4 linked regions of the Homo sapiens genome follow. The protein of the gene in region 3 interacts with the protein of the main gene of each other region in a biochemical or structural test. Each region holds a gene or a part of one and is shown on either strand. Other genes may lie near its edges. The genes, in order: MC4R, MC3R, POMC and MC1R.

Region 1 (7,534 bases), on a different chromosome or scaffold from region 3:
AGTTTGCAATATTTTAAAAATTATTTGACATTAGAGCATTCCCTTTCATTAATATTTTGTGGTGGAAAAACTCTTAACAACTAAAAACAGTGTTCCATGTATCATAGTTTGGTAAACATTTTTCTATATTAATGTTTCACATTTATTGTTATAAAATATAAAACAAGATTTTTCTCTCAGAACAGAAATAAATTATGCTCTAATTCAATTTTGTGAGGATTACAAAAGAAATCTGAAATAAATTTTCAAAAATACTATCAATGTGTCTAATATTACTGGTTGTATTTCTTCTGGCTCGTAGAGAAATATGAACCATGGCGGACAAATAAAATACCATATTCGAGATCAACTTTTCAGCACAATTAACCTTACAATAAAGATCTTATAAATCTACACCCAGTGATTAAATTTTTGATGTTGAGGGTATGTAATTTTCTGGGACTTCAGTGTGATCCTTTTGTTCATAAATAAAACATTTTTATGGGAAAAAAATTTTAAGGGAGTAATTAATTTTGTTCTTTATTACTAATTTCACCTATTATTTCTAAATTAACATTTTTATTTTATTCAAGTTTTTAACCAGTTCTTTTATTCTGTTTTTATATGCAATGTTTATATAGGATTTAGAATAAGTATGAAATAACTATTTGATCATTTATTAGATAGTCTGTTAAGGAAGAAAATTGCCATAGATGAATCTAATATAATTTAATCTTTTTTCAGATAAAAGGCAATAGATGGAAGATGAGAGTGGAAATGAGAGCATCAGGATGATTGAAAATTCTCTCATCGGTTAAAACAACTAGAGCACTTGCAAAGCTTGTCAGGATTAACACTTTCAGAACTCTGAAAATTGACCAATACTTCAAATAACCCAAGGTAAATTTATTCAGGAAAATGGCTAAATTGAAGTAAGAAGAGTGAAACTTGCAGCATTTTAACTAGACATATTTTCCCATTCCAAACTCACCAGCTCTGCAGTAGCTTTGACAACTAACATCCTATAAAAATGTTTAAAAGCATCAGTCTAGCAGGAAATGGAGGGTGCAAAATGGGGTTGGATCTTCTTCAAAGCTCCATTCCCGTTACCAGAGATGCCATCATTATTTTGACCTATCTGTTGGTTTCCTGACAAACTCTACTTGCAGGGGTTTCTTATTTGACCTAACTCAGAACTCACCCACGGAGAACAGTCTTTTCCTCAGGGACATTTGTTGGAAACAATCAGAACAACTGCTTAACATCATGGCTGCCTAAGGCAATGGATAGAAGTTGGCGAAAAAAAATCAGCTATTCAAAAAGCCTAAAAGAAAAAGCTCAAGAAAATGAGATGTCCATAGGAATTTATTAAAACTCTAATATATTCCTGAGAATCTAGAAAGCCGTACAAACATGCAGGACTGTGCTTATGATCAGAAACAACAACAACAACAACAAAAACTAAGAAGGTCTTGACTTCTCACCTCTGGCTGACCTTTGTGGCTGTGTGTAAGCAGAAGGTAAGGCCAAGGCAGAGTTGCCCAGTGCCTGGCTAAGTGTCAAAGGCATGCCCATCATGGACACAGAGTCTCTCAGCAATGACTAGGGGAGATGTTAGTTCCTGACATCTAAGGAAATCTCTGTCCACTTATCAGCTGACCAATAAGCTATCAGAGCAGAGACCTCATTGATCATACAAGACAAAGAATACAGACATTCTAGAATTATTTAAGAAAAATTACTGAACAACAACAATAACAAACAACAACAACAACAAACCCTGGGTAAGAGAGAAAATCTGATTTTCAGGGTTGCTGGATTGTGTTATTCAAAATTCCCCGTTTCTAACAAAAATGAATAAATAAAATGCAGGCAAATAAATAAGAAAATATAGCCCATACACATTAGGAAAAGGAAGTCAGCAGAAATTATTCCTGGGGAAGTCTAGATGTTGCACTTAATATATAAAGCCTTTAAATCAGTTCAAACATGTTCAAAGGATTAGCGAAAACTATACGTAAAAATTAAAGGAAATTATGAGAACAATTTCTCATCAAACAGAAGATATCAAAATATAAGTGTAAACTTTAATAACCATGGGTTAGGCAATCCTTTTTTAAATATGATCCCAAAAGCTCAGGCAACCAAAAAAATTTGATAAATTTAACATCATCGTAATTAAAAGGTTTGTGGTTTCAAGAACACTATCAATAATTGAAATGGCAAAAGTACCCAGAATATGTAAAGAGCCACTACAACTCAATAATTTAAAAAAATCCAATTAAAAATGAGCAAAGGATTTGAATAGGCATTTCTCCAAAGATTATTACACAAGTAACTGGTAAGGATGTAAAATCATCTTCAGTATCATTAGGCATTAGGGAAATGAAAATCAAAAGTATAATGAGAGTTCACTTCATATCCTTATGATGGCTAAAATAAAAAAGATGGACAATAGCAAGTGCTAGCAAGAATGTGAAGAGATTTGAACCCTCATACATTGCTAACTGGAAATGTCAAATGGTGCAGCCACTTCAGAAAACAGTTTGGCAGTTCCTCAAAACAAGAAACAGAGTTATCATATGATTCAGCAATTCCATTCCTGGTTGTGTATCCAAAAGAATTGAAATCATCTGTCACATAAGAATTTGTCCATAAATATTCCTAGCAGCATAATTCGTGATAGCCAAAACTGGAAATAACCCAAATGTTCCTCAACTGATGAATACATTTAAAAATATAATGTATACAGCCAGGTGCAGTGGTTCATGCCTGTAATCCCAGCACTTTGGGAGGCCGAGGCGGGCGGATCATGAGGTCAGGAGATCGAGACCACGGTGAAACCCCGTCTCTACTAAAAATACAAAAAATTAGCAAGGTGCGGTGGCGGGCACCTGTAGTCCCAGCTACTTGGGAGGCTGAGGCAGGAGAATGGCGTGAACCCAGGAGGCGGAGCTTGCAGTGAGCTGAGATTGCACCACTGCACTCCAGCCTGGGTGACAGAGCGAGACTCCGTCTCAAAAAAAAAAAAAAAAAAAATATATATATATATAAATGTATACATACAATGGAATATTACTCAGCCATAAAAACAAATCAAAACTGGGCACAGTGGCTCATGCCTGTAATCTCAGCACTTGGAGAAACCGAGATGGGAATATCGTTTGAGCCCAAGAGTTTGAGACCAGCCTGGACAACATAATGAGATTCAATCTCTACAAAATTATTTTTTAAAAGCTAGCTGGGTGTGGAGGTACATTTAGTTCCAGCTACTCAGGAGGCTGAAGTAGGAGGATCACTTGAACCTAGTGAGCCATGATCATGCCACTGCACTCCAGCCTGGGTGACAGAGCAAGATCCTGTTTTAATTTTTTAAAAATCAAATTCTGATTCACATTATAGTGTAAGCAAACCTTGAAAATATTATGCTACATGAAAACAGTGAGCCACAAAAGGCCACATATTGCATTATTTCAATCATATAAAATGTCTAAAATAGGCACATTGATAGAGACAGAAAGTAGATTAGCAGTTCCTAGAGGATAAGGAAAGGGTAAAATGGGGAGCAACTGCTAATGGGATAATGAAAATGTTTTAGAAATAGAAAGTGATGATTATGGCACAACTCTGTGAATATATTCCCCCAAAAATCCATTTAATTACTAAAGAGGTGATTTTTTTTGGTATGTGAATTATATGTCAATTTTTAAAAAGAGAAAAAATAAGGCAAGAGGAAGGTAAGATTATTTCCAGCTCATGATGTTCAGGAAAGCCCATTCCAGCATTTTACAATATACAGATGATTAGGCATTCAGAAATACAGGGGAAGGGAGTTGGAGGTGTGAGTTCTGCTCTGTGCAATCATTCAAGAGACAGGCTCCTTTCATGATATGGTCCTGCCACCTGTAACATGAGATTTCAAAGACAGGAGAGAAAACTTGTGTAAAATTATGAAAGAGCTAATGCGATGAGCCCCACTGTCAACATGCCATTAGCTAGAATTTAGTCATAAGGTCCTACCCAATTCCAAAGGTGGATGGAAGACGTTAATTTATCTCAATGCTCAGGAACAATACTTAGTATTGTCTCTGTCACAAAAGGAAAGAGGATACATTCCCAACCTAAGTAACTGAGATTCAGAATTAACCCTGAAATAAGCAGCTACAAACTATAGAGCACTAAAACCAAAAATAATCATAGAAGAAAAGAATATACAAAATTTTGTATAATCTGTTGTTCAGTTAATTTGGAAAGTAACTTTGCTGCCATCTTTCAAACCACCTTAAGCAAAATATTCAGAAACTTCAATAACTAACTAGTATCACCAGTCTTGGCTTGATAAGTAAAGTTACTAGGTATTTGTCGGTTCAACTTACGATACGTTAAACTCTGGAGGTTTAAAAAAAAGTTGCTTAAAAAAAAAAAACAGAATGCAGCTTATTATTTTCCTGAGTTCAGTGTAAGCATAGTTACATTAATGCCGTATGAGTTTAAAATATTGTAAATAAAAAGCACCTTTTTTCAGCTATAACACAAACTCCTCAATAGAGAAATATGGGATATTAGTGCATTAAAATCAACCCCTTTTGAACCCATTCATAATTTATAGCTACCTACATAGTTCTTCCAGCCATACCATGTCTATCTGTATCATTAAATATCCTCTCTGTTTTTCAGGTATTTTAACTGAACCACTACTGGCTGGGTTCTTAATAAAAACAAAAAATTAAGAAGGTAAATAAATTCAGTATCCTAGCCAAAAAGCAGAGTATCTGTTTCAGGAACATAAGACAGTATACTTTCCATTTCATTTTACACACACACATGATGTCTTTTACATAAGAATGAACCTGGCTGCCTGAAGATAGCTTGTTTTGATATCACAGAATGGCCTCTAGGGATCAAGTTGTTTCCCTTGAAAACTTAAAAAGGGAAATTCAGTCTCTTATCCGGCTTGCTTCTCGACTTCAGACTTCAGGAGCTTCTGCATCTGAATCTGTGTCACCCTGCAATTTGTGTCTCTGAAACATAATCCTGTCTCACAGACTCCCATTGCATTGGGATTGGTCAGAAGGAAGCAGAGGAGGAGCCACCGTGAACATGTTTTTTTTCTCTCCACACATCATAAAAATCAGCAGCTGGCGCCTACAGCCCCTAACACTCAAAGCAACGCTCAGGCTGGAAACAGAAGCTTCCGAGAGGCAGCCGATGTGAGCATGTGCGCACAGATTCGTCTCCCAATGGCATGGCAGCTTCAAGGAAAATTATTTTGAACAGACTTGAATGCATAAGATTAAAGTTAAAGCAGAAGTGAGAACAAGAAAGCAAAGAGCAGACTCTTTCAACTGAGAATGAATATTTTGAAGCCCAAGATTTTAAAGTGATGATGATTAGAGTCGTACCTAAAAGAGACTAAAAACTCCATGTCAAGCTCTGGACTTGTGACATTTACTCACAGCAGGCATGGCAATTTTAGCCTCACAACTTTCAGACAGATAAAGACTTGGAGGAAATAACTGAGACGACTCCCTGACCCAGGAGGTTAAATCAATTCAGGGGGACACTGGAATTCTCCTGCCAGCATGGTGAACTCCACCCACCGTGGGATGCACACTTCTCTGCACCTCTGGAACCGCAGCAGTTACAGACTGCACAGCAATGCCAGTGAGTCCCTTGGAAAAGGCTACTCTGATGGAGGGTGCTACGAGCAACTTTTTGTCTCTCCTGAGGTGTTTGTGACTCTGGGTGTCATCAGCTTGTTGGAGAATATCTTAGTGATTGTGGCAATAGCCAAGAACAAGAATCTGCATTCACCCATGTACTTTTTCATCTGCAGCTTGGCTGTGGCTGATATGCTGGTGAGCGTTTCAAATGGATCAGAAACCATTGTCATCACCCTATTAAACAGTACAGATACGGATGCACAGAGTTTCACAGTGAATATTGATAATGTCATTGACTCGGTGATCTGTAGCTCCTTGCTTGCATCCATTTGCAGCCTGCTTTCAATTGCAGTGGACAGGTACTTTACTATCTTCTATGCTCTCCAGTACCATAACATTATGACAGTTAAGCGGGTTGGGATCATCATAAGTTGTATCTGGGCAGCTTGCACGGTTTCAGGCATTTTGTTCATCATTTACTCAGATAGTAGTGCTGTCATCATCTGCCTCATCACCATGTTCTTCACCATGCTGGCTCTCATGGCTTCTCTCTATGTCCACATGTTCCTGATGGCCAGGCTTCACATTAAGAGGATTGCTGTCCTCCCCGGCACTGGTGCCATCCGCCAAGGTGCCAATATGAAGGGAGCGATTACCTTGACCATCCTGATTGGCGTCTTTGTTGTCTGCTGGGCCCCATTCTTCCTCCACTTAATATTCTACATCTCTTGTCCTCAGAATCCATATTGTGTGTGCTTCATGTCTCACTTTAACTTGTATCTCATACTGATCATGTGTAATTCAATCATCGATCCTCTGATTTATGCACTCCGGAGTCAAGAACTGAGGAAAACCTTCAAAGAGATCATCTGTTGCTATCCCCTGGGAGGCCTTTGTGACTTGTCTAGCAGATATTAAATGGGGACAGAGCACGCAATATAGGAACATGCATAAGAGACTTTTTCACTCTTACCCTACCTGAATATTGTACTTCTGCAACAGCTTTCTCTTCCGTGTAGGGTACTGGTTGAGAATATCCATTGTGTAAATTTAAGCCTATGATTTTTAATGAGAAAAAATGCCCAGTCTCTGTATTATTTCCAATGTCATGCTACTTTTTTGGCCATAAAATATGAATCTATGTTATAGGTTGTAGGCACTGTGGATTTACAAAAAGAAAAGTCCTTATTAAAAGCTTAACAATGTCTCCTTCGTGTTATTCATAAGCATTGGACACTTTGCGTGCTTTCGTAACATAGAAATCAGAGCCTCATTAAACATATTCTAATAAATGCTTTATTATATTATATTATCCACCATTGAAATGTAGAGAGTTCATTCTAGCAGTTAAGGGAAAATATTTAAAGAATAGATGTATAATCATTTTTAAAAATATCATCACTGAAATTTCAAGTAATTTAATTAAAGGTTTGTTCATCCTCCCTGTGCAGAAGTAGAAATGAAGCTCCTCTAGAGAGAAAAACAGGTGCTGAAAAAAGAGAGATGCTGAGTTAGAAAACTATGTGTACTTCTCAGACACAGAAAGATTCATCTCCCTTAGCAAACAGCCTGATATTTCACACAGGCAATTCGGTTTGGGGTGGGTGGGAAAAGGCAGCTATAGGGATGAAAGTGTCCTGGAAAACCTAAGTTGCCATGTCAAGCTAAATTTCCTGTTACCAAATTATCCCTAAACAATATTAATAAAACAGAGAATGGGGATTTATGCCCCCTTTAAACAAGGATTCAGGGTCTGCTGAAGTGTCCAGAAAAGGTAATATTGTACTGAGAGATTTAGCTTCCTGTTTCTAGAGAAGTACAGGACTGACATCGAATTCTTTCTCATTTCACATGAAAATGACTTGCTGTTTACTTATTGCTGATTTTTTGAA
Region 2 (6,384 bases), on a different chromosome or scaffold from region 3:
TACGGTTTCTCAAACTATCTTAAGCTACAGTAAAGCAATTTCTTGTGATACACACACACACACACACACACACACACACACACACACACGTATATACATGTACCCCAACCCATGATTTCCTTTCTTGTTTTAAAGGCTAAAAGTAAATGATAGAAAAAAAGAAGTTATTTTAAAAAGATTAATCTATACCTTAAAATAGCAAGGTATCAAAATACACGTACACAAGTATATTCTGATTGTCCAAAGCACTTTCTCTCTTTCGTTAGAGTTTTGAAGGTTGTCTTAGATTTAATCCATAAAAACAAAACAACAACACACACCAACACAACAACAGAAAAATAGAAGTGGGTTACATCCTCATGCTACCTTTGGGGGTGGGGACAACTGAAGGGATATGGGGGTAAGAAAAGGGGAAAACGGCATAGCATTGCTCCTTTCACAAAGAGACAATTGTCTAACTGTAAATAGAATAATAGAGTAGAACTCAGTCTCCTACGGAGTTATAAGTGCAAAGCTATCTCTCCGTGTAGCTGGCAGCAGGAGGTCGTAGCTGTAACAGGTTTGCTTGCAAGAGATCTGAACCACCCTTATTGTTCATGAGAATCCTTCAGTCTGGTCTGGCCTGGAGCATGAAGACGTGGGTGTGGAGCAGATGAGCAGACAGGCGTCGCACACCCTGGGTGTTTGGAAATGAGTGCAGAGAGCATGCAGAGAAGCCTTCGCTGATTTCTCCCAGTGACTATTTGGGAAATCAGAGTTTGTGACTTACCCATCTTGGAATCCTTTCAGAGAATCTGTTGTTCACCAATTTTCCCCTTTAAAAGGCTTTGTAAACTTAAAAACAAACGACAAGTACAATCATGGCTGTTAACACATTTTTATATTTTCTAAGTATATATATTTTTCTTTCTAAACACCTCACGTGGATGGAAAGTCAAAAGTGACCCGACTGATGATCATTTCCATGGCCCTGCATCCTATCCCAAGTTCATGCCGTTGCAGCCACAGAGAATCTCCCTAAAGGTGTTGCGCAATTCCAGGCTCCGGAAAGCGTAGATGAGTGGGTCGATGACGGAGTTGCACATGATGAGGACCAGGTAGGTGTTGAAGTGGGCAGTGTAGCAGATGCAGTAGGGGTTGGTGGGGCAGGTGATGATGAGGACCAGGTGGAGGAAGAAGGGGGCCCAGCAGAAGATGAACACGCCCAGGAGAATGGTGATGGTGACTGCCCCCTTCATGCATGAGTGTTGCTGTGGGGCCACCCCGTCGGCAGGTGGCAGTGCTGCTATGCGCTTGACGTGCAGCCGCGCAAAGAGGAACATGTGCACGTAGAGGGTGCCCATGAGGAGCATCATGGCGAAGAACATGGTGATGAGGCACACAATGACCATTTTGCTCTCCGAGTAGACGATGAACACCACGCCACAGACGCCGCAGCAGACCCAGATGGCCACGATCAAGGTGAGGGCCTTCCTCACGGTCATGATGCTGTGGTAGCGGAGCGCGTAAAAGATGGTGACGTACCTGTCGACGGCGATGGCCAGGAGGTTGCAGATGGAGGCCACCAGGGAGATGCAGATCATGGAGTCGAAGATGTTGTCCATGTGCTGGATAAACTGGTCCTCGAAGGTCAGGTAGTCGCTGTGGACGATGGCGATCATGATGGTCTCCAGGGCATTGGACACACTTACCAGCATGTCGGCCACCGCCAGGCTGCAGAGAAAGAAGTACATCGGGGAGTGCAGGTTGCCGTTCCTGACCACGGCCAGGATAACCAGGATGTTTTCCAGCAGACTGACGATGCCCAGAGACAGGAAAACCTCGGGCTTGATGAAGACCTGCTCACAGAAGGCGCTGCTGCTCTGGTTGCTGAAGAAAGGGGCTTGGAGGTGCTCCGAGCCATTAGGCAGTGTTGGCTGAACAGAGGGCAGGCAGCACGAAGCATTCATTGCTGTCAGAAGGGCTGATCCGAGCTGGGGCTCCAGCAGGGTCCGTAGGAAGCTGCTGCTGCTCACAGGAAAGACAAAATCTCCCTCCAGATACGTCTTTTGGATGCTCATTCAATCTGGCCTTAGAGTTTATTCTCCTCTAGAATAAAAGGATGGGGAGGGTAGAGAGACAGATAGTGAGAGAGGGTGGAGGAAGAGACAGAGAGAGAGAGAGACATACACACAGAGAGAAAGAGCGAAGGGGGAAGAGAGAGAGAGAGGGAGAGTAGCTAGTTAGTAGCTAGCATGCAAGTTTGTAGCTTGGAGACATAGGGAGAACTTTGCTGTTCCAGGAGGAGCAGTTTTTATCTTGTTTACATAGAAAAAATACACCATAGGGTCTCTTACCAGCTGTCTTCCTTCTGTCTCCCTCTCACCCCTCTGTTTGTCTCTCCTCACTTCCCCACCTGGGAACAGAAAACCTGCCACCGGCTGCTACAGTTACAGCTCTTTTCATGGCAAGACAGGGGATGTGTTACTTGTCGCTAGAAGTGAAGGGAGAACACTCAGGTTTTTCATATTGGCCAAGGGCAAACAACTCCTACTTAATCTTCAGCGCAGCAGAATGACCACTGAGCATCGGGCACCTCTCTGACTGACAGCAGGTACCTGGCCCTGAGGATTCTGCAGGGAGATTAAGAAGCAGACTAGTGCCCTCTGCAGGCCGCACGGCTGTCTGCTTGCTGGCTTGGCTTAGCCCTTTGTGTTTGTCATGGAAACTGCCACAGGCATCCACTCATCTGTTCATTTGTTTGTTTATTTGTTAGTTCATTCATTTGTTGTTGTTGTTTAGCAAACATTTATTGAGCGCCTACTATGTGTCAGGTCTCTGCTGAGTGCAGGAAATACAGTGGTGAGCAAGACAACAGCCACTATCTCAGGCTTCCCCGAACTCAGAGTCTGGGGTGGAAGAAGAGGAATCAATAAATGCTTGAATCAGGAAAGTCCAGGAAACCAGGGATGCAAAGAGGAAGAGCCCTAACCCGGACTGTCAAAGTTCCTGGAGGAAGGAGCACCTATGCTTTGACTTCAAGGAGGAAGAGGTCATATCCAGTTTGGGGTGGGTGGTGGGGTGGGGGCTGGAGCTGGAGGAGGTAGAAGAGGACTCCAGGCAGAGGGAATCACACGTCTGCAGCCTGGAGGCAGAGAGCACCCTGGCCATAGAAGTCATCACAGATTGTGGATGTGGAGATCCCATTTGACCCGCGGAGTCAGAATCACCCAGGTGTAAGACCTGAACAAGTGTGTTTGCAATTTTTGACAGGTGAGCTGGGGCATAGTCACAGTTGAGCTCCACTGAAAAAGAATCTTGGGCTTTTGAAAGTGCTGAAAGTAGTCTGCTCTGGTCAGAGCATGGAAATAGGAGACACAATCTGAGAAATGAGGCTGCACAGTTTCTTAAAAAGTTGAGAGGTGCCTGAATCCTGAAGGACAGCCTCAGCCAGATGTGAGAATTTGGACAGTACCTTGACAGCAATGGGGACTGTGGAAGAAACATAGGTAGGGCAGGAATGAGATGGGGTCTGCATTTTAGAAATATTCCTGGTTGCAGGGTGGAGAATGAATTAGACAGACTGAGCATGTAGGCCAGGGAGTCCGGGGCAGAGGGTGTTGCAAAGACCCAGGGTGAGATGATGGTGGCCTGGAGCAAGGGAGTGGCCATGGGGACTTGGAAGACTTGGAGGGTGGTCAGAGAGATTCAGAAGGTTGGATAATGCAGCTTCAGAACTGATGGGTTATGGGATCATGGGAGAGGGAGCAGTCAGAAACACCTGTACTTCTTTCTTACATAATGGGGAGGATGGAGATGTTTTAAGCTGGAAAATGTGAAAGGCAGAAGTTAGCAGGTGGCCTACTAATGTAGTGTTGTTCTTGGAAGTATGGTTTAACACTTGGTCCATGTTAGATCTGATTCCCCATGTAGATCATATGAACTCAGAAAACACTGAGTCTTCTCATCCCTACACACACACACACACACACACACACACACACACACGCACATTCTAGGTGAATTAATGATCCATCTCTCCATGTAACTATGTATGTGTGTGTAGGTGTGAGAAATATTAAAAATATGCATATGGAAATAGAAGAAAACTTAGGATCCTTGGGGTGGAAAGATCTTAAGCAAGATGAGCAATCCAAAATTTAGTATGGAAAAACACCCTGAACTAAGTTAAAAGAAAAACAGAATGAAAATATTTGCTATAGGTAAAGTTACTATCTCTTACATACAAAGACTACTTTCACATTAACTAGAAAAAGATAAATTACCCCTAAGAAAATTGGGCAAAGGATATAAATAATAATTTACTGAAGAGAAGATGCAAATGGTTAATAAACATGAAAAGATGTGAAGCCATCTAGGAAGTTGGGGAAATGCCAGTCAAAATGAGATTTTAATATCGTTTTCCCAGCTAGATTGACAAGAGATAAAAAGATGCAAAATTCAGGTAAGAATATCGGGAGGACACTCTCATGCATTTCTAGTGTTTGTGAATAGTTTCACCATTTGGCAGTTCTTACTAAAATAAAAAAAAAGCCTGTTGGTATGAGTTTCTGTCTATGAACTGAGGGGCATGAGAAATACTTTTGTTTATTTGCTTTTTTTAAAAAAATATTTTGTCAAGAGCATGAGTTTAAGTTGCCCTGAATATACATTTCCACTTCTGTTTATTTTCAACAGAACGACTTAATTTCTGATGCCAAGCCACCATTCTTCTAGGTTGGAAAAAAACACATTCTTAATCCTTTTGGGAACTTCTCTTACCCTCAGGGTCACATCCAGTCTGTGGTTTCAAGGGCATGAGTCATACATGTAAAGCTAGACTATAAGGCAGGGACCATTCATTATCTACTAGGTCTTTTCCTGCTCTGTGCTTGGCACGTGCTGAGCACTGACCACCTTTTCCTGCTTTCATTCTCTGGTCGTGTGCATCCTTCAAAGAGAGCAGCTGGGACCTAGTACTTAAAATCTGTGTCCTCAGAGGTATCATCATCACTCATGAGTGTTTATTTGGTCTTCTCCAAACACTACTTCCCACTTTCCTGGGGGAGTTGCACAGATGCAGCATTACGTTTTAACTGAATCTTGCATGAATGAATTGGCTTTATTAATAACAATTGTAGGACATGACAGTCTCTGTCAGTGTTTACCGTATGTTGTTGGCATATGTGGGGGTGTCTGTTTTGAATCAGTTATAATAAATGTAACAAGGAGATTCTTATTCTAGGAGATAATGAACCCAGGTGGTCTCTTTGCCTGAAAAGCTCTTCCTCAATTTTGTGACTGGTATACCCTCCTTATTCTTCAAGATCCAGCTTAAATGTCAACTATTTTTTACAGCTTTTCTTAAATTTCATACACTAATTTACCACCCTTTCTCCTTGCTGACAAGCTGACAGGGTTCAGTACTCCTTCCCCACTCTCAAAAGCACAAGCAACAAGAGAAAAAAAAAGTGGGCCAGGCATGGTGGCTCATGCCTGTAATCCTAGCACTTTGGGAGGCTGAGGCAGGTGGATCACCTGAGGTCAGGAGTTTAAGACCAGCCTGGCCAACATGGCAAAACCCTGTCTCCTCTACTAATAATACAAAAATTAGCCAGGTGTGGTGGTGCACGCCTATAATCCCAGCTACTCGAGTGGCTGAGACAAGAGAATTGCTTGAACCCAGGTATCAGAGGTTGTAGTGAGCTGAGATTGCACCACTGCACTCCAGCCTGGGCAACAGAGCGAACGAGACACTGTCTCAAAAAAAAAAAAAAAAAAGTAAATTGGACTTCCTCAAAATTAACAACTTTTGTGTTTTAAAAGATGCCACAAAAATGAGAAGACAACACAAAGAATGGGAGAAAGTAATTACAAATCAGATATCTGATAAGGGACATGTATCTGGAATACATAGAGAACATTTACAATTTAATATTATAACAAAAAGACATATTGCCCAATTTAATGATTGGAAGCAAAGGATTTGAATAGACATTTCACCGAGGAAGATATCACATGTCCAACAAGCACATGAAAAAAGACTCAATATGATTAGTCATTAGTGAAAATACTAAAATACACTAAAAATCCATTGAATTGTCCACTTTAGGTGAATTGTATGGTATATTGACGCTATCTCAACAAAGCTGTTTTAAAAATGACATGCAGAATATTGCATAATTAGAGGTCACATCCATGCCACGAAAAGGGGGACAGTTTGGCCAGCAGTCATGTTAGAACACAACGATTAGATTTTATTATAAATATGAACTTTTCATGAGGGGCAGATGCTGCTGATGCCTGTGTCCCTGCACCCAGCTTACCTCTGATTTCAACAGCCGTTTGCTGGACAGCTCCCCCAGTTCCGTGGGAGCTCAGATTCAACTTACACTGCCAGGGTGC
Region 3 (8,804 bases):
AAATTACTCTGGTGATCACTATTACCCAGACTCCAGTAACTTTGGAGAGCTTCGTTTTTAAAGCAGATCTCAGTTCTTTGAAATCTGGCTCATCTTCTGGACACGTCACGTGTCAGATGTCTTGTTCTCTAGAGCTCTCAAATGTGGTCTGAAATGGCAGGATTTGAAGAGGATGCAGATGTGGAGGGGAAAGAGACCAGAAGGGAATTACCTCCTGGTGGAACAGCCACTGCAGATACTTTTGGAGAATCCAGCAAGTGCCTGTGGGCAGAAGCTGAGGTCAAGACACCAGGGGACAGTAAGGAGGGGGCATCCATGGTGCCCCTAGCCCCCTGTACCCACCCCTCTCTCCAGCACTACCCTCGCACTGCCAAATTTCCCTTAACCAGGTGGGCCCCCTGAAGCCACCTCGAGGCCGGAGATCAGCTCACCGCCAACCCTACAATCATTTTGGATTTCAGAAGATCTTCTCAGCCAGCTGCTAGAAAGAAATGTAATTAGATGAGAAAAGTAATTCACATTAAAGCGTGGATGACTAAGTGTCTTGTCACTCCTAATGAACGCTGGCATTTTAAAATAAGTTTGCCTAAAATAAATCTCTCATTTGGGGAGGCGTGGGCCAAATCTTTTTTATATAGGGGAGGCTTTGGAAGTGAAAGTCCTCTGAAGCGCTGATTTCTACTTCAGGAGGCCACTTCCTTCTCTCTACCCCACCCTCGCCCTATTCCCCAGGCGCTGGGCCTGCACGGTGCTAGCTTCTGAAGGGTTGCCGGGCAAGGCTGAGCATTTTCAGAGCAGCCATTAGATGGCACTGGCAGCCAGTGACTGGCCCAGGTGCGCTTCGGCTAAAGGGGCAACTGAACGAGCTTTGGTCAACCTTGGTGTCCTCTCCTGGCTCCAAGGGACAGGCTGTTCCCATTGTACCCTGCCAGTGATCTATTCAAGTACACAGCCAGAACTTGGTGGACCAGGCAATTAGATTAAAGCTCCAAGTTGACCATAGCACATTTAGCTCTGAAAAATGCCCAGATGTTACAGTCACAGAAAAATGGTAGTTACGTATGTCACCAAATGCAAATGTAAAGTAACATATTAGTAAAGGAAAAAACAAAATCTTACAGGTCTGATAGTTCCCTCAATTATATTTCAATTCTTGTCAAAGATAACTACTCTGGAGTGATTTCCATTTGCTAGAAGCAATGACTTCAGGCCTTCCTGGAAAGCCCCAGAGAGCATTTCCCCTCCTTATGCCCTATGTGCTGTGTTGTACAATGTGGTAACATATTCACTCCCACCCTCTCAGAGCTTATATTCTGTTGCTAAACTGGTTAGATGGCTGCTATTGCTAAAACTTCAGATTCTTCCCTGAAAGATGGTCTTGTGTTTGTATTGTATATTTTGCTTATGTGTATGTGTATTTGCTTATGTGTATTTTCAGTTCTCTACAATGAACAAATAGTACCTTTTGTGTCATTTTTAAAGCAACAAATTATTGGGGAAATATCAAATGTTGTGCTTTTTTAAGTAGGGAAAGTATTATAATCCAAAAATGGAAAGCTCTGGAAAAATAGAAACTTGAAATTTGCTCATCCTGAGATTAACTTTATAGTAGAACTACACTTATTAGAACTTCATAGGTGTGAGGGGCTCTCTATGAGCTCAACAAATCATTTTGCTTGTTACTGTAAAACTGCACGCTGGCCATGACCTTTTGTAAAGATTAGAGGAGCACAGGGGCCGAGTTTTGTCCTTACACCATGACATACATGCATCGAGTCCTATAACAAAAGCATCAAAGGAACAGTAAGTCATTAAAGTGGCCATAATCTGTGCAGAGTTTATAAACTGACACACACACAAAAAAAATCCACACACACTTTTATTTTCCTTGGCTCCTTCCAGCCATTCTGTAAGAACCCTCCCTGCCCCATTTAAACATGAAGAATTTGGGGAATCCAAATGCCAAGTGGACTGTCTCTCCTTCGCTGGAAACGCCCCTTACCTGAGCCTTGATCATTCCAAATGGCTGCCCGTGCCCTCAACCCAGGATCTGCGCCATAAACCGTCCACCCCGGTTCTGTTGAGGGCATCCGAAACTAGACAGTGCGTTTCAGGATCTAGGACAGCTCCCGCCCCGGCCACCTGTTTTTAACCCCAGCTAGGTCTTGGAGAGAAGAGACCCAACTATTCTGCATTGTAATTGACCCAGTTATCATGTAATTATCATAGCGCGGCCACCTCGGGTGCGCTAAGGTGGGCAAGGAAACAAGGATTCAGGGGTCTGAATCCGAAAAAATCCGGAAGGCAGGGCGTTCATTATGACTTTTATCCTTTTCTCTGCTGCCCCGTTTCCAACATTAATTTGCGATAGCGTGTATGGAATTTGACTTTCAAGATGTGACACCTATCCTGGAAACTGGGAGCAAGAGATACTAAAAGACCGGGCTGGCCGGGGGCGGTGGCTCGCGCCTGTAATGCCAGAACTTTGGGGGGCCAAGGCGGGCGGATCACCTGTTGTCGGGAGTTTGAGACCAGCCTGACCAACATGGAGAAACTCCGTCTCTACTAAAAATACAAAAATTAGCCGGGCGTGGTGGCGCATGCCTGTAATCCCAGCTACTCGGGAGGCTGAAGCAGGAGAATCGCTTGAACCCGGGAGGCGAAGGTTGCGGTGAGCAGAGATCACCCCTTTGCTCTCCAGCATGGGCAACAAGAGCGAAACTCCGTCTCAAAAAAAAAAAAAAAGACCGGGTTGTCCCAAGACCTCCTAGCAAGCTCTCGGAGCCTCCGGACCGCCGCGAGCCCCTGGGGGAGAGGAGGCCGCCGGCTCCCTGGAGACAGCGCCTGCAGCTTCGCGGCCGTCCGCCCAGGGGCCGGACGTGGGCCCTCCAGCTCAGCTACTGGCGGCTTCTCATGCCGCAGTCGGCGCAGAAAGTTTGTCGAGAACTCGGGACCGCGGAGAGCCAGAGGCGCCCAGGTCCGCCTTCGGAGCCGGAGCCGGCCGACTGCATCGCGAGGACGGGGACAGGGGATCCCGGGGAAAGAGCACGGGTCCCCCACGCTGCGCCCTTACCTGTCTCGGGAGGCTGCTCTCTGAGGGCGGGGACGCTCGGCGGCCTCTCTCGGTCGCGGCTCTTCTTCCCCTCCTTCGCCGCCGCTTGGTCCCGCGCTCCTCTGTCCTTATATACTTGCCGAGCTCTCCTGGTGGGCGCGGGACTTTGACCTTCCCGGCAGCACAAGGAGCAGCTCCCCGGGCCAGGGGAAGGGGGGCCGCGGGGCGTGGGAGGGGGGCTTCCAGACGGGGGACGAGCGCGGGGAGACGCGCTGGAAAGGGGCTGGAATTAGCACTGTCCTGCCGAAGGCGCACCTGGCCGCTCGCCCTCAGGAAGAACTTAATTATGGATGGCGTTGGGTCTCCGCTTAGAACGGGCGGGAGGCTTAGCACCCCCGTGTGGGGCAGGCCGGGCAGCCTCTGAGGTCGTTGAGGCGAGGGTGAAGTTACCTGCGTGCGTGCTGGGGCTGGCATCTGCCTGGTTCGCATTTGGCGGTAAATATCACCGTCTGCACACGGGGAGGCCTCCGATTTCCCCATTGTTTGGAAACTGTGATGTGGAAGTCGTGGGGAATCATATTCTCTCTGTTCCACTTTGGGGAGGGGAGGAGGGAGCAGAAGTCAGGAGCCGTCTTGTGGGTGTGAAGGTGAGTTGCACTGCTCCCCTGGGGCCTGCTCTCCAAGGGCCTGGTTTAGGGGAGGCTCCCTTCCGTGTCCCAAGCCTCAAGGAAAAAGTCCTGTTAACCTAAACCATTAAATGGGGAGAGGGTGATGCTGTGAAGAGCAGCTGAAGTGCTTTCCCTGTGGCCTCTGATCCCTCCCTTTGCCATGAGCTGGCAGGGTGGTCTGGGGACTCAGACAATTTTCAACATCCCCCTTGGCCCTGGAGTTCTGGCTTGGCTTTAGTTCCAAATATCAGACCAGAGAGAAGAGTACAGCACTCAAACCAAGCTAAGAGACTCTACCTTAACCTGGAGTAAATAAACAAAACCAAATTGTGCGATGTGGTGGGTGTGGGAGGGAGTATTGGGACTAAACTGGACTTCAAATCAAGACACTTGCTTAATCTGCCAAATGCCAGAACTTTCCTGATTCCCCATGAGATGCTCTTTTGGACTCCAGGACTCTCTTGTGGATTCAGCTTTTCTGGTGACATTGGCTTTACATTCAGCAATCCTTTCCCTTTGGACCACAAGAGAGATCCAAGCTCCGTCACAGTAGACAAGGTGCTTCATCACCCGGCTTTGGCCCCTTTCCAGGGCCATTTCCCAGTTCTCCACCTTGCATCCTGGCACTTCAGCATCCACAACATTCACACTGCTAGAACATGGCTTTCTTGGGTCTCCATTGTCCAAGCTGTTCCCCCAACTAGAACATCCTTCCTCTCTCCAGCCATCCAGGAGCTTGACTCACATCAAGATGTAGCCCATCCATCAGCCCCTGTTCTCTGAAGCCCTCTTTGGCCACTTTTCCTACCAGGGGCATGAGGCATGACCTCCTCTGCCTTCCACAGAAGTCCATCCCCATCTTGTCAGTGCAAGTGGCTTGCACTAATTCACTTCTGTCCCCATTTTTTTAATCTTCCATCCACCCCACGACCACCATCAGGTTTGTAAACTCTTTCAAGCAGATGGTGGTTTTGCCTTATTTTACTTTGTGTTATTTTTGTAACTTCAGGAGGCTGCTGGTGGCAGCAGATAAAACAAACCAGGAAAAATCCAAATGGACCCAACTTCTTTAACTGGGTTCCTTCTTTCTTTTCTTCTCTCTCTCTCTCATTCTGTTTGTTTGTTTTTGAATTAGGGTCTCACTCTGTTGCCCAGGCTGGAATGCAGCAGTGTGAACACTGCTCACTGCAGCCTCCACCTCCTGGGCTCAAGTGATCCTCATGCTTCAGCCTCCTGAGTACCTGGAACCACAGATGCATGCCACCATGCCCAGCTAATTTTGGGTTTTGGTTTTTTGTTTTGTTTTTGTTTTTGTTTTTGGTAGAGACAGGGTTTCACTATGTTGCCTAGGCTGGTCTCAAGCTCCTGGGCTCAAGTAATCCACATCAGTATCCTGAAGTGCTGGGATTACAGGTGTTAGCCACCACACCCAGCCCAGTTTCTTAATTTAATGCAGCAGAACCTGCTTTGGCCTCCATGAACTGAAAGGCCATTGAACTGCATTTAGAATCACTGGGTAGGCGGGGCACAGTGGCTCACGCCTGTAATCCCAGCACTCTGGGAGGCTGAGTTGGGCAGATCACGAGGTCAAGAGATGGAGACATTCCTGGCCAAGATGGCGAAACCCCGTCTCTACTAAAAATACAAAAATTAGCCGGGCGTGGTGGCGCACACCTGTAGTCCCAGCTACTCGGGTGGCTGAGGCAGGAGAATCGCTTGAACCTGGGAGGCGGAGGTTGCGGTGAGCCGAGATCGCGCCACTGCACTCCAGCCTGGCGACACAGCAAGACTCCATCTAAAAAAAAAAAAAAATCACTGGGCAGGTTGGGGGACCAGGATCTAAAAATGGGCAGGGACACAGTGTGGCTGGAACCATGGCCAAAATCACATCCAGTGGAGAAAAAAAAAACAGACCACAAGGGGCCACAAGGGGCATGTCAAGACCACAGGCGTCTGACATAGACGTCACTTCTGTCCCCAGGATGGGACGCTGCCATTCTCACTTCAGCTAATGCCACTAGAAAGGAGTCACCACTGCCCTTGCATCCTTGTACCACTAGCTCCTCTTTGAAAGCCTAGAACAGGTGCCTTTGATTGTCTGACATGACATAATTTTTCACCTTTATTCTAGTAATGTGGTGAATTATTGCATTGTTGATTTTTTGGTGTTAAACCTACCATGGCTTCTTAGATTAAACCCAATTTGATTATGATGTATTATCCTTATACAGAAAGCACTGGACTCAATTTGCTAATATTTTATTTAAGACATTTGCATTGATGTTCATGAGATGGGCCTGTAATTTTCCTTTCTTGTGGAATTCTTGTCTAATTTGAGTATCAAAAAATTATGCTGTTCTCATAAAACAAGTTGGAAATCCATCTTCCCTCCCCCTTTTTATAATTAAGTAGAATAATTTGCGTATAATGGTGTTATCTCGTCCTTAAATGTTTGGGATGATTCACCAGTGATGCCATCTAAATCTTTAAGATTGTTTGTTCATTGAAGTTTTTAATTACAGAATCAATCCTTTCAGCTGGAGCTGGAAAAAAGAAGGAAAAATGTTTTAAACCATTACAAATTCAATTACTTAAGTGGCACTATTTCAATTGTCTACTTCTTCATGTGTCAGTTTGAGTCAGATATGTATTTCTAGGAATTTGTCTATTTCATCTAAATTCTTTAATTTATTGGCTTAAAATTGTTTATTATATATTTTAAGCATCTGGGATCTGTGGTTTTGGCCCTTTTCATCTCTGATATTGGTTATTTGTGTTCTCTTTTTTCTTGATTCATTTTCTTTTTTCTTTTTGAGACAGACTTTCACTCTTATTGCCCAGGCTGGAGTGCAATGGCATGATCTCGGCTTACTGCAACCTCCGCCTCCCGGGTTCAAGCAATTCTCCTGCCTCAGCCTCCCAAGTAGCTGGGATTACAGGGATGTGCCACCACATCTGGCTTATTTTTTGTATTTTTAGTAGAGATGAGGTTTCTCCATATTGGCCAGGCTGGTCTCAAACTCCTGACCTCAGGTGATCTGCCGGCCTCAGCCTCCCAAAGTGCTGGGATTACAGGCGTGAGCCACTGTGCCTGGCCTCTTGATTAGTTTTCTTAGGGTGTTATCCATTTTATTAGTCTTTTTAATAATCCATTTTGGTTCTGTTAATTTTCTGTACTATATGTATACTTTTTTATATTTCTGAAATTTTTACTCTTATTATATCGTGCCTTCTACATCTTTGGGTTTAATTAGCTATTCTTTTCCTATACTCATGAGTTGGACATTAAATAAATACTTTTACTTAGATAATTGATATTGAACCATTTTTTTCCTTTTTTTTTTTTTTTTTTTTAATATTGCCTTGACTCATCTTCAACTCTTGGGCTCCAGTGATCCTCCCACTTCAGTCTCTCTAGTAGCTGGGACTATAGATGCATGCCACTGTGCCCAGCTCCTTTATTCTTTTTTTACATATGTATTTATGGCTATATTTTCTTTCTAAGTACAGCTTTATATGCATCCCACAACTTTTGATATGTCATATTTCAATTACCATTTGTTCAAAATATCTTTTTATTTTCATTGAGATGTCTTCTTTGACCTATAGGTTATTCAAATATATTCTGCTTAACCTCTAACCCTTCCAATTCATATTACCAACTTAGAAAAAAAAGAAAAACTTCTAAACCTTGGGGATTTTCCAGTCATGTTTTTAAACTAATTTTTTGCTTAATTCCCTTGTAGTCAGAGAATATGCTCTGTTTGATTTCAGACCTTCGAAATTTTTTGAGGCTTGCTTAACAGATAAACATAGGGCTCATTTTGATTAGGGCTTCCTGTGCACTCCAAAAGAAGTGTCTCACTGCACTGTATTCTGTGACTGTATATTCTCAAATATTCTATATCCTTTCTCTACCTATATCCTTGCTATTTGTCGTCTTATTCTATTAGTTACTGAGAAAAGTATGCTTTTTAAATCTCCTCACTATTTTTGTGCATTTCTCCATTTGATCCTGGCATAAAAACAGCACAACTCAGCCGGGCACAGTGGCTCACGCCTGTAATCCCAGCACTTTGGGAGGCCGAGGCAGGCGGATCACCTGAGGTCAGGAGTTCCAGACCACTGTGGCCAACATGGTGAAATCCCGTCTCTACTAAAAGTACAAAGATTAGCCAGGCATGGTGGCGCATGTCTGTAGTCCTAGCTACTCAGGAAGCTGAGGCAGGAGAATTGCTTGAATCCGGAAGTCAGAGGTTACAGTGAGCCAAGATCATGCCACTGCACTCCAGCCTGGGCAACAAGAGCGAGACTCTGTTTCAAAACAAAACAAAACAAAACAAAACTCTATGAACTGAATGGTGATTGTGGGTGGAGGGTAATGTTGGATCAAGGATAAAGATGGCAGAAAGGGCCAGGCGTGGTGGCTCATGCCTGTAATCCCAGCACTTTGGGAGGCCAAGGCGGGCAGATCGCAAGGTCAGGAGTTCGAGACCAGCCTGATCAACATGGTGAAACCCCATCTCTACTAAAAATACAAAAATTAGCCAGACATGGTGGCTTGCACCTGTAATCCCAGCAATTTGGGAGGCTGAGGCAGGAGAATCGCTTAAGCCTGGGAGGCGGAGGTTGCAGTGAGGCCATTGCACTCCAGCTTGGGCAACAGAGCAAGCCTCTGTCAAAAAAAAAAAAAAAAGGAAAGAAAGAAAGAAATAGAGAAAAGAGAAAAAAGGAAATTCTGAAATCTGGCCTGGCACGTGTGACCACGTGACCAGTTCCTTCAGAAGGCAGTTCCACTGCCCGGAATGAATCTCCTTAGCTCTTGGTTCCATCCTCTGGGCTCTTGGTTCCATCCTCTGGGCTCTTGGTCTATTCTCTGTGTTAGCTTTCCTTTTCCATAATAGCCAAGATTTGCACCTGAATAATTTTCTTGCTTGCTTCCTGCCTATGGTATTTCAGGGGCTCAAAAGCTTCTTTTTGTTTGTATACTCCAGCTCGACCACTATCTGTCATATGGATTAAAGGAGGCAATTCATGTAAAGATCTTAGAGCAGGGCCTGGTCCCTAGTTAGTCCTGTACAACT
Region 4 (8,116 bases), on a different chromosome or scaffold from region 3:
AAGAAGCTCTCCAGTTTGGAAAGTCGAGAAATGGATCTTTTGTTCTCAAGAGATGCCCCTCCCTGCCCCACAGTGTGCTCGTGTGGCTGCTGCTGGGGTCTAGCTGCCTGGGGTTCCTCCCTGTCCCTGTTCAAGGGAGTCCGGGGTGAGTGTCTGAGGTGCCTCCCTGTCTCCACGAGGGAAGAAGTTTTGCAGCCTCAGGGCAGCCAGCTCCTGCTCCATCCTCAGAGGGGTCTGGTGCCGGGCTTAAGGCTGACTCACCGTCCGGTCTCCCAGCAGAGGCGGGCCCTGCCAGGAAGCAGCTCCCAGTTCTGAGGCCGGCAGTCAGGGGTGGGGCTGGCCAGGGGGCTGCTGACTGAGCCTGCGTAGGAGTCGGCTGATGGCCCTGCAGCCTCCATTGAGCCTGTCCCAGGAAGGGGGCTGACTGAGTGCTCAGTCTCTGCAGAGGAAATGGAGGTGGTCTCTTCAGCGAGACGCCCAGGTTTCAGCAGAGGGATGGCCCAGGGGCGCCACTGCTCCCCAGCACCAGGCAGCATAGTTCATCCCCAGGTACTCACTCCCAGGGACTTCTCCGCCGGCTGGGCCTCTGCCTCACTGCCATCTTCAGAAGCCTCACATCAAGCATTTCCCAGGACTGGCTGAACACAGACCCTCCACCCCCGACCCCTTCCCCACCTGCCTACTCCCAGAATGGCAGTGCTGGGCAGACAGCAGACCCAGCCCCCAGCCCACCTGCACTGAGCCCCCTTCCAGGCATCTCAGAGTGGACAGGGATGGTCCCATTCACGGCTCATCATGGCTGGAGGGACTCAGGGCCAGGGCCAGCAAAGGGATGTGTCCCGGCTGAGGTCACATGTGGTCACAGGGAAGGCTGGGAACCCGCCTCTTCTGCAGCTAGGACAGCGTCAAGAGTGGAGGGGACTGGGGCCCTGCTGCACCTGCTCGTCCTTCCTCTAGGCTGGGGTTTGTCAGCACGGAGAGAAAACCGAGAAGCAGGGTCAGCGCAAGCCTGGTTGGGACCTCCACACTCCCCAGGCATTTGGGGCCTCTGGGGCTGTGGCTTCCTCACCTGGGGAGGCAGCCACGTTTTCCGGGACTCCTTTCTTCCCTCTCGACTCTCACCCCTGCCCACCTTCCCCTCCCCCATCCCTCCACCCGCAAACTTCAAGCACTTTCTGGAAGGGGCTAAGGTGGGTGATGCTGAGTCACATTTATTACCAGACTTTCCTGGCCCCATGCTCACAGGCACTGGTCACTGAGTCAGGCATTTGCCAGGGCTGTCTGCTTGGGCGACTGCTGCAGGAAAGCAGGCTGAGGCCCCAGTGCCCAGTCTGAGCCTTAGAACCGGCCCTCAGGAGGGCTCAGCCCCATACCACTAGGGGGGCTCCTGCAAACCTGGTCCCTTGGCCTGAGGCAGGGATTTCACCTCCTTTTGCAGGAGCCGCTGCAAGGCTGTGGATGAAGCTTTCTGGTCACAAAGCCCCTTCTCCTGGGGCTGCTGTGGGAGTAGCTCTTGGCACACACTTCCACCCAGAGACTTCACATCCCAGCTGACGAGGGCACGGTCCTGAGAGCTGGCAGCAAAGATGGGGTGGGGTGGATGCTGCTCAGTCATTGGAGCAGACGGAGTGTCCCAGGAGTGGGCGGAAAATGTCTCTTTAGGAGCCTGAGGTTGGCCCCTGGTGCCCGGAGCCTGAGGCCCCACAACCTCCCCATGTCCTCCTCCGTTCCCCACGACTGCTGGTGAGAAGTCCTGCCTGGAGTTTTGCAGGGACCCCTCCCTGGACCCAGAAGGGTCCGCGCTTCAACACTTTCAGAGATCATTTAGTCCATCCTCTTTGACAAACGGGGACCAGGGAGGTAAGGAACTGCCCAGGGTCACACAGGAACCAGACCACACAATATCACCACCTCCCTCTGCCCAGCACACTTAAAGCCGCGTGCACCGCGCTCACCAGGAGCATGTCAGCACCTCCTTGAGCGTCCTGCGGAGCTCCTGGCTGTGGAAGGCGTAGATGAGGGGGTCGATGATGGCATTGCAGATGATGAGGGCGAGAAAGAGGTTGAAGTTCTTGAAGATGCAGCCGCACGTGGGGTGCTCGGGGCAGAGGACGATGAGTGTGAGATGCAGGAAGAAGGGGCCCCAGCAGAGGAAGAAAATGCCCAGCAGGATGGTGAGGGTGACAGCGCCTTTAAGGCCAAAGCCCTGGTGGACCGGGCGCTGCCTCTTGTGGAGCCGGGCGATGCCCTGGGCGTGCTGGCAGGCCCGGGCCAGCATGTGGACGTACAGCACGGCCATGAGCACCAGCATAGCCAGGAAGAAGACCACGAGGCACAGCAGGACGGCCACGTGGTCGTAGTAGGCGATGAAGAGCGTGCTGAAGACGACACTGGCCACCCAGATGGCCGCAACGGCTCGCCGCGCCCGCGGCAGGGTCACGATGCTGTGGTAGCGCAGTGCGTAGAAGATGGAGATGTAGCGGTCCACGGCGATGGCGCCCAGGAAGCAGAGGCTGGACAGCATGGAGCTGCAGGTGATCACGTCAATGACATTGTCCAGCTGCTGCAGCACCGCAGCCCGGGCCACCAGTGCACCGGCCTCCAGCAGGAGGATGACGGCCGTCTCCAGCACGTTGCTCCCGCTCACCAGCAGGTCCGACAAGGCCAGGCAGCAGATGAAGCAGTACATGGGTGAGTGCAGGTTCCGGTTCTTGGCGATGGTGGCCACCACCAGCGCGTTCTCCACCAAGCTCACCAGCCCCAGGCTGAGGAAGAGCCCGTCAGAGATGGACACCTCCAGGCACCGGGCTCCTGTCTGGTTGGCAGCCAGCCCCAGCTGGGGGATGGCTGTGGGGGTGGAGTTGAGGGAGCCCAGAAGTCTTCTCTGGGATCCCTGCACAGCCATAGTCCTGTCCAGGAAGCAGGAAGGAGTCGTTGGAGGCCTCCAGGTCCCCACAGTTCTTCCCCTCCAGGTGTCCTGCTTAGTTCATGGTGCTGCCAGGGGGCCTTGGGTGTCCCCCATGCCTGCCTCCTTCCATCTGGGCACCCCCAGATCTGCCCTCACACCCTCTCCCTGGCTGGACAGGTCAGCCCAGGCATGGCCCAGCCAGTCCAGACACCTCCTGGCATCTACCGCCTGGGCTCAGGGATTCTCACAACCAAGCCTGGTCCTCAGCTCCCTCCCTGCCTCTTCCCTGGTGGCTGCTGCTCAGGTCCCCAGGACATTTCGACACCTCTGGACCGTCCTGGCCTCTGTCTCCTGCCTTCCTGGGCCAGGGCTGCGCTGAGGTCCTGGGAAGAATGGAGCTTTTCTCTGCGTTTTAAAAAGTCGTTCTCAGAGCCCCTCCCACTGAGGGCGGCCACATGCCGGGGGCGTGAGCACCCACCATGGCCCGGCCTGCCACCAGGCGGCGTGCAGGACCCAGGGGGTCCCTCACACCGCGGATCTCCTTTACGTTAAAAAACACCACAGTCTGTCCTGGTCACCAGGGCCCCCACCTGGCCGCCCCTCTAGGAGTCCGGAGCTTCCCCGGGACCTGCCCTCTCCAGAGGCCCCACCCTTCACCCCTCCCCTCGTCAGCAGCTCAGGGAGGACAGGGGTCCCCTCTGCTCTCAGCCAAAGCACGCATGGAGCAGCAACTCAGCTGTCAACGTTCACGGCAGATTTGGGGGCTGGACCAGGGAGAACTTTCCAATAATTAAAGTTCTGGAAACTGAGTGAGCCCTGCAGGAGTTTGCACATCGCGCGGGGTGAGGGGGCTTCCGGCCAGGGCAGAGCGTGAAAGCGTCCAATGCTAGTGAGCCCTGGAGAGGTTGGTGTTTTCAGGCATCTTGTAGAGCCTGAGGCCACTCTGGCGCCTGCCCCCAAGGGCCCAGCCTCGCCCAGCCAGAGTGGCGACCCCCTCAGCTGCAGCCCTGGGGCTGTGGGGGTGTCGCTTCCTGGGAGCGGACCGGCTGGGGGCACCCTAGTGAGGTCTTCAGGGACCCTCCAGTCATCTCGTCGCTCATCCTCACAGGGGCACCCGGGACGCTGCTCCCGCCCTCCCCGGGCGGCGCGCCATTTCCGCTGCGGAAGGCACCACAGGCCCTGCACCAACAGCCACATCAAAGGCAGACCTCTCGCCTCCAGCCGTCGCACGTGGTGCTCCGCAGGCCGTTCACAGCAGTCGGGCGTGGCCCCGAAGCCCAGCAGGGACGGTGGAGAGGGGCCCTGGCACCCACTGCAGGCATCTTCCTGGGTTCACTCCAGGGCGTTCCCAGCACTTCCTTGCTGAAGACTGCGTCTGTGCTGAAGGGTGGAAGCGGGAGGGGGATGGAATTACTCGTCCCATTTACAGCTGCAGGAAAGGAGGCAACGGTGCAGGCACCGCATCAGGGTTTTCAGTTTTGTGTCTGCGATGTTCGAGTTAAAATCCATCCTGTCTCTCGCCCAACTGCCAAACTCTGACCATGAAATGCTCACACCACTCACAAGCCACCTCCATGTGTGTGAGGACATTAATATTTTTCATATTTACTGGTACAGTAAATACTTGTTACAACCGCATTTTACAATTTATAAATCTTTAGTTTTGCTTTAAAATTTTTTATTATTGTCAGCCATGGTGGCTCAGGGCTGTAATCCCAGCACTTTGGGAGCCCAAGGCGGGTGGATCACCTGAGGTCAGGAGTTCGAGACCAGCCTGGCCGACATGGAGAAACCCCGTCTCTACTAAAAATACCAAAATCAGCCAGGTGTGGTGGTGGGTGCCTGTAATCCCAGCTGAGTCAGGATAATAGCTTGAACATGAGAGGCGGAGGTTGCCGTGAGCCGAGATTGCACCATTGCACTCCAGCCTGGGCAACAAGAGCAAAACTCTGTCTCAAAAAAAAAAAAAATTATTATTGCCGGGCACAGTGGCTCACCCCTATAATCTCAGCACTTTGGGAGGCTGAGGCAGGCGGATCATGAGGTCAGGAGTTCAAGACCAGCTTGGGTAATATGGTGAAACTCCATCTCTACTAAAAATACAAAAATCAGCCAGGCGTGGTGGCGCACGCCTATAATCCCAGCTACTTGGGAGGCTGAGGCAGAATTGCTTGAACCCAGGAGGCGGAGGTTGCAGTGAGCCGAGATCACACCACTGCACTCCAGCCTGGGAAACAGAGATACAGTCTCAAAAAAAAAAAAATATATATATATATATATATACATATAATTTTTATGTATTTATTTATTTTGAGACAGTTTCACTCTGTCGCGCAGGCTGGAGTGTAGTGGTGCATTCTTGGCTCACTGCAACCTCCACCTTCTGGATTCAAGCAATACTTATGCCTCAGCCTCCCAACTAGCTGGGACTACGGCACCCACTACCACACCTGGCTATTTTTTGTATTTTTTGTAGAGATGAGGTTTCACCATGTTGACCAGGCTGGTCTTGAACTCCTGACCTCAGGTGATCGGTCCGCCTCAGCCTCCCAAAATGCTGAGATTACAGGGATGAGCCCCCACACCCCATCTGCTTTAATTTTTTTTTTTTTTTTTTTGAGACGAAGTCTCACTGTCACCCAGGCTGGAGTGCAGTGGCATGATCTTGGCTCACGGTAGCCTCTGCCTACTGGGTTCAAGTAATTCTCATACCTCAGCCTCCTGAGTAGCTGGAACTACAGGCGCGTGCCGCCACACCCGGCAAATTTTTGTATTTTTTTTAGTAGAGATGGGGTTTCACCATGTTGGCCAGGACGGTCTTGATCTCCTGACCTCATGATCCTCCCGCCTCCGCCTCCCACAGTGCTGGGATTACAGGCGTGAGCCACCGCGCCCGGCCCTAAAATGTTTTAATTGAGGTACAACATACATGAAAATGCACCAGTGATAAATATGCAGGTTGACGGATGACAGACCTGAACCAGCCACATAAGCAGCACCAGACCAACAGACACAGCGTTCCCACCCGGACGGCTCCAGCGAGCCGCTGCCAGCCCATCTGGCCCATCACGTGAATGGTGTCCCAGTTCACTCTCTCTGGCTGAGATTCGCCTATGCCGGTGGCTGTAACCGTCTGCCTCAGACCGTGGTGTCCACGGCGTGAACAGACCACGTCTGGGTGGCTTCAGACTCCCTATCAACGATACCGTCTGATGGACACAGGTGCGTCTGTGGATTGCCACCCGGGGGACATGGGCAGGGACCTCTCTTCAGCTTTGGGAGACTTGGTCAAACCATCTTCAAATCGGCAGGCCTGTTTCTGTTCACACACGCAGCCCCAGGCTGCTCAGAGGAGAGAGCGCGCCCTGCCCACACCACCACAGGACCTGGTATCCGGCCACAGCCACAGAGCCTCGGCCTCAGCCCAGCCTTTTGCCTCCCATGACCTTTGCCCCCTCACGCTGTGCTTCCAGCATGAGCACAGGGGAGAGAAGGGTCCCAAGGTGTGAGAAGGCCAAGCCTCTGCCTCGGGAAGGAAGACGGCTCCACTGGTGTGAGGGCCGTGGCTGTGTCCCTGCCCCAGGAGCACCCCCGACGTCCACAGCACCTCACAGACCCAGACCCAGAGCCCGCTCACCTCTGGCCATGAACCAGTGAGCAGCCCCTGCCCCAGAGCACTGTCCCCTCACATTTCAAGGACGTTCGTGTTTGCAGCTCCACAATGAGGCCTTTGAGACGGACGGCGGTTAACCCCAGCCTCCACTGCTACCCCCCAGCCCGGGACTTGAAAGGGCATGAGAACTGGGCAGCCTTTTTCGTGCCAAGATGCAGCTGGAGGGCATCGGAAGTGGGGTGACCCTGCCACAGGACTCCCACTGTGGTTCCTCACTGGATGTGCCTGTCGGGGCTTCGTGGGAAGATGAGGCACAGCCGAGCTGCAAAAAGTCAACTTTTTGATGTGTTATGGTCATGGGGGAGATAAATTAGCCTCGGGATGATCTGTGATTAGATGACATCCTACAGCTAATCATATCTCGATTTTGGTCTCTTAGTGCCCCTGGAAACACTGCATGCTGAGTGGCCGGAAGACACGTGGGGCTGGCCCATCCGCTCACCAGGGTCCCCGCCACAGGCAGAGGCACCGTTCCTGCAGAGCACTTTCCATCCAGGTGTTTCTGGACCAGCGACCCACGAGGAGAATGAAGACAGACGTCTTCCTGCGTTTATTCAGTGTCTGGCATCCAGGGCCTGCAACACACACACAGGCACACACACACACACAAATGTGCACCCACACACACAGGCACACACACACACAAATGTGCACCCACACACACAGGCACACACACACAGGCACACACACACAAATGTGCACCCACACACAGGCACACACACAAATGTGCACCCACACACACAGGCACACACACACACAAATGTGCACCCACACACACAGGCACACACACACAAATGTGCACCCACACACACAGGCACACACACACACAAATGTGCACCCACACACACAGGCACACACACACACAAATGTGCACCCCCACACACAGGCACACACACACACAAATGTGCACCCCCACACACAGGCACACACACACAGGCACACACACAAATGTGCACCCACACACAGGCACACACACACACACAAATGTGCCCCACACACACACAGGCACCCACACACACAGGCGCACACACACACAAATGTGCACCCACACACACAGGCGCACACACAAATGTGCACCCCCACACACAGGCGCACACACAAATGTGCACCCCCACACACAGGCACACACACAGAGGCACACACACAAATGTGCACCCACACACAGGCACACACACACACAAATGTGCCCCACACACACAGGCACCCACACACACAGGCACACACACAGGCACACACACACACAAATGTGCACCCACACAGGCGCACACACACACAAATGTGCACCCACACACACAAATGTGCACCCACACACACAGGCACACACACACAAATGTGCACCCACACACACAGGCACACATGCATACAAGTGTGCACACATACATACGTGCACACACACACACAGGCACACACACACACACAAATGTGCACCCACACACACAGGCACACACACACAGGCACACATGCATACAAATGTACACACATACAAATGTACACACATACATACGTGCGCACACACGTTTACCCACACACGCGTG

Evidence for each region.
Region 1: the proteins of POMC (region 3) and MC4R form a complex in vitro, tested with the Homo sapiens proteins (2 studies listed by BioGRID).
Region 2: the proteins of POMC (region 3) and MC3R form a complex in vitro, tested with the Homo sapiens proteins (one study listed by BioGRID).
Region 4: the proteins of POMC (region 3) and MC1R form a complex in vitro, tested with the Homo sapiens proteins (one study listed by BioGRID).

What each region holds. Positions count from the first base shown.
Region 1 is NC_000018.10:60,370,377-60,377,910, reverse strand, and holds MC4R (melanocortin receptor 4), read left to right. Parts: upstream 1-5,135; 5' UTR 5,136-5,561; coding exon 5,562-6,560; 3' UTR 6,561-6,849; downstream 6,850-7,534.
Region 2 is NC_000020.11:56,244,409-56,250,792, reverse strand, and holds MC3R (melanocortin receptor 3), read right to left. Parts: upstream 2,062-6,384; 5' UTR 1,950-2,061; coding exon 978-1,949; downstream 1-977. UniProt on the Homo sapiens protein: Receptor for MSH (alpha, beta and gamma) and ACTH. This receptor is mediated by G proteins which activate adenylate cyclase.
Region 3 is NC_000002.12:25,165,425-25,174,228, forward strand, and holds the start of POMC (pro-opiomelanocortin preproprotein), read right to left. Parts: upstream 3,157-8,804; 5' UTR 3,074-3,156; intron 262-3,073; exon of another isoform or gene 212-261; intron 1-211.
Region 4 is NC_000016.10:89,914,048-89,922,163, reverse strand, and holds MC1R (melanocyte-stimulating hormone receptor), read right to left. Parts: upstream 3,209-8,116; 5' UTR 2,906-3,208; coding exon 1,952-2,905; 3' UTR 1,192-1,951; downstream 1-1,191. Other genes in the region: guanine nucleotide-binding protein subunit gamma 4-like, read right to left, coding at 3,209-3,313, 4,117-4,288, 7,024-8,063. UniProt on the Homo sapiens protein: Receptor for MSH (alpha, beta and gamma) and ACTH. The activity of this receptor is mediated by G proteins which activate adenylate cyclase.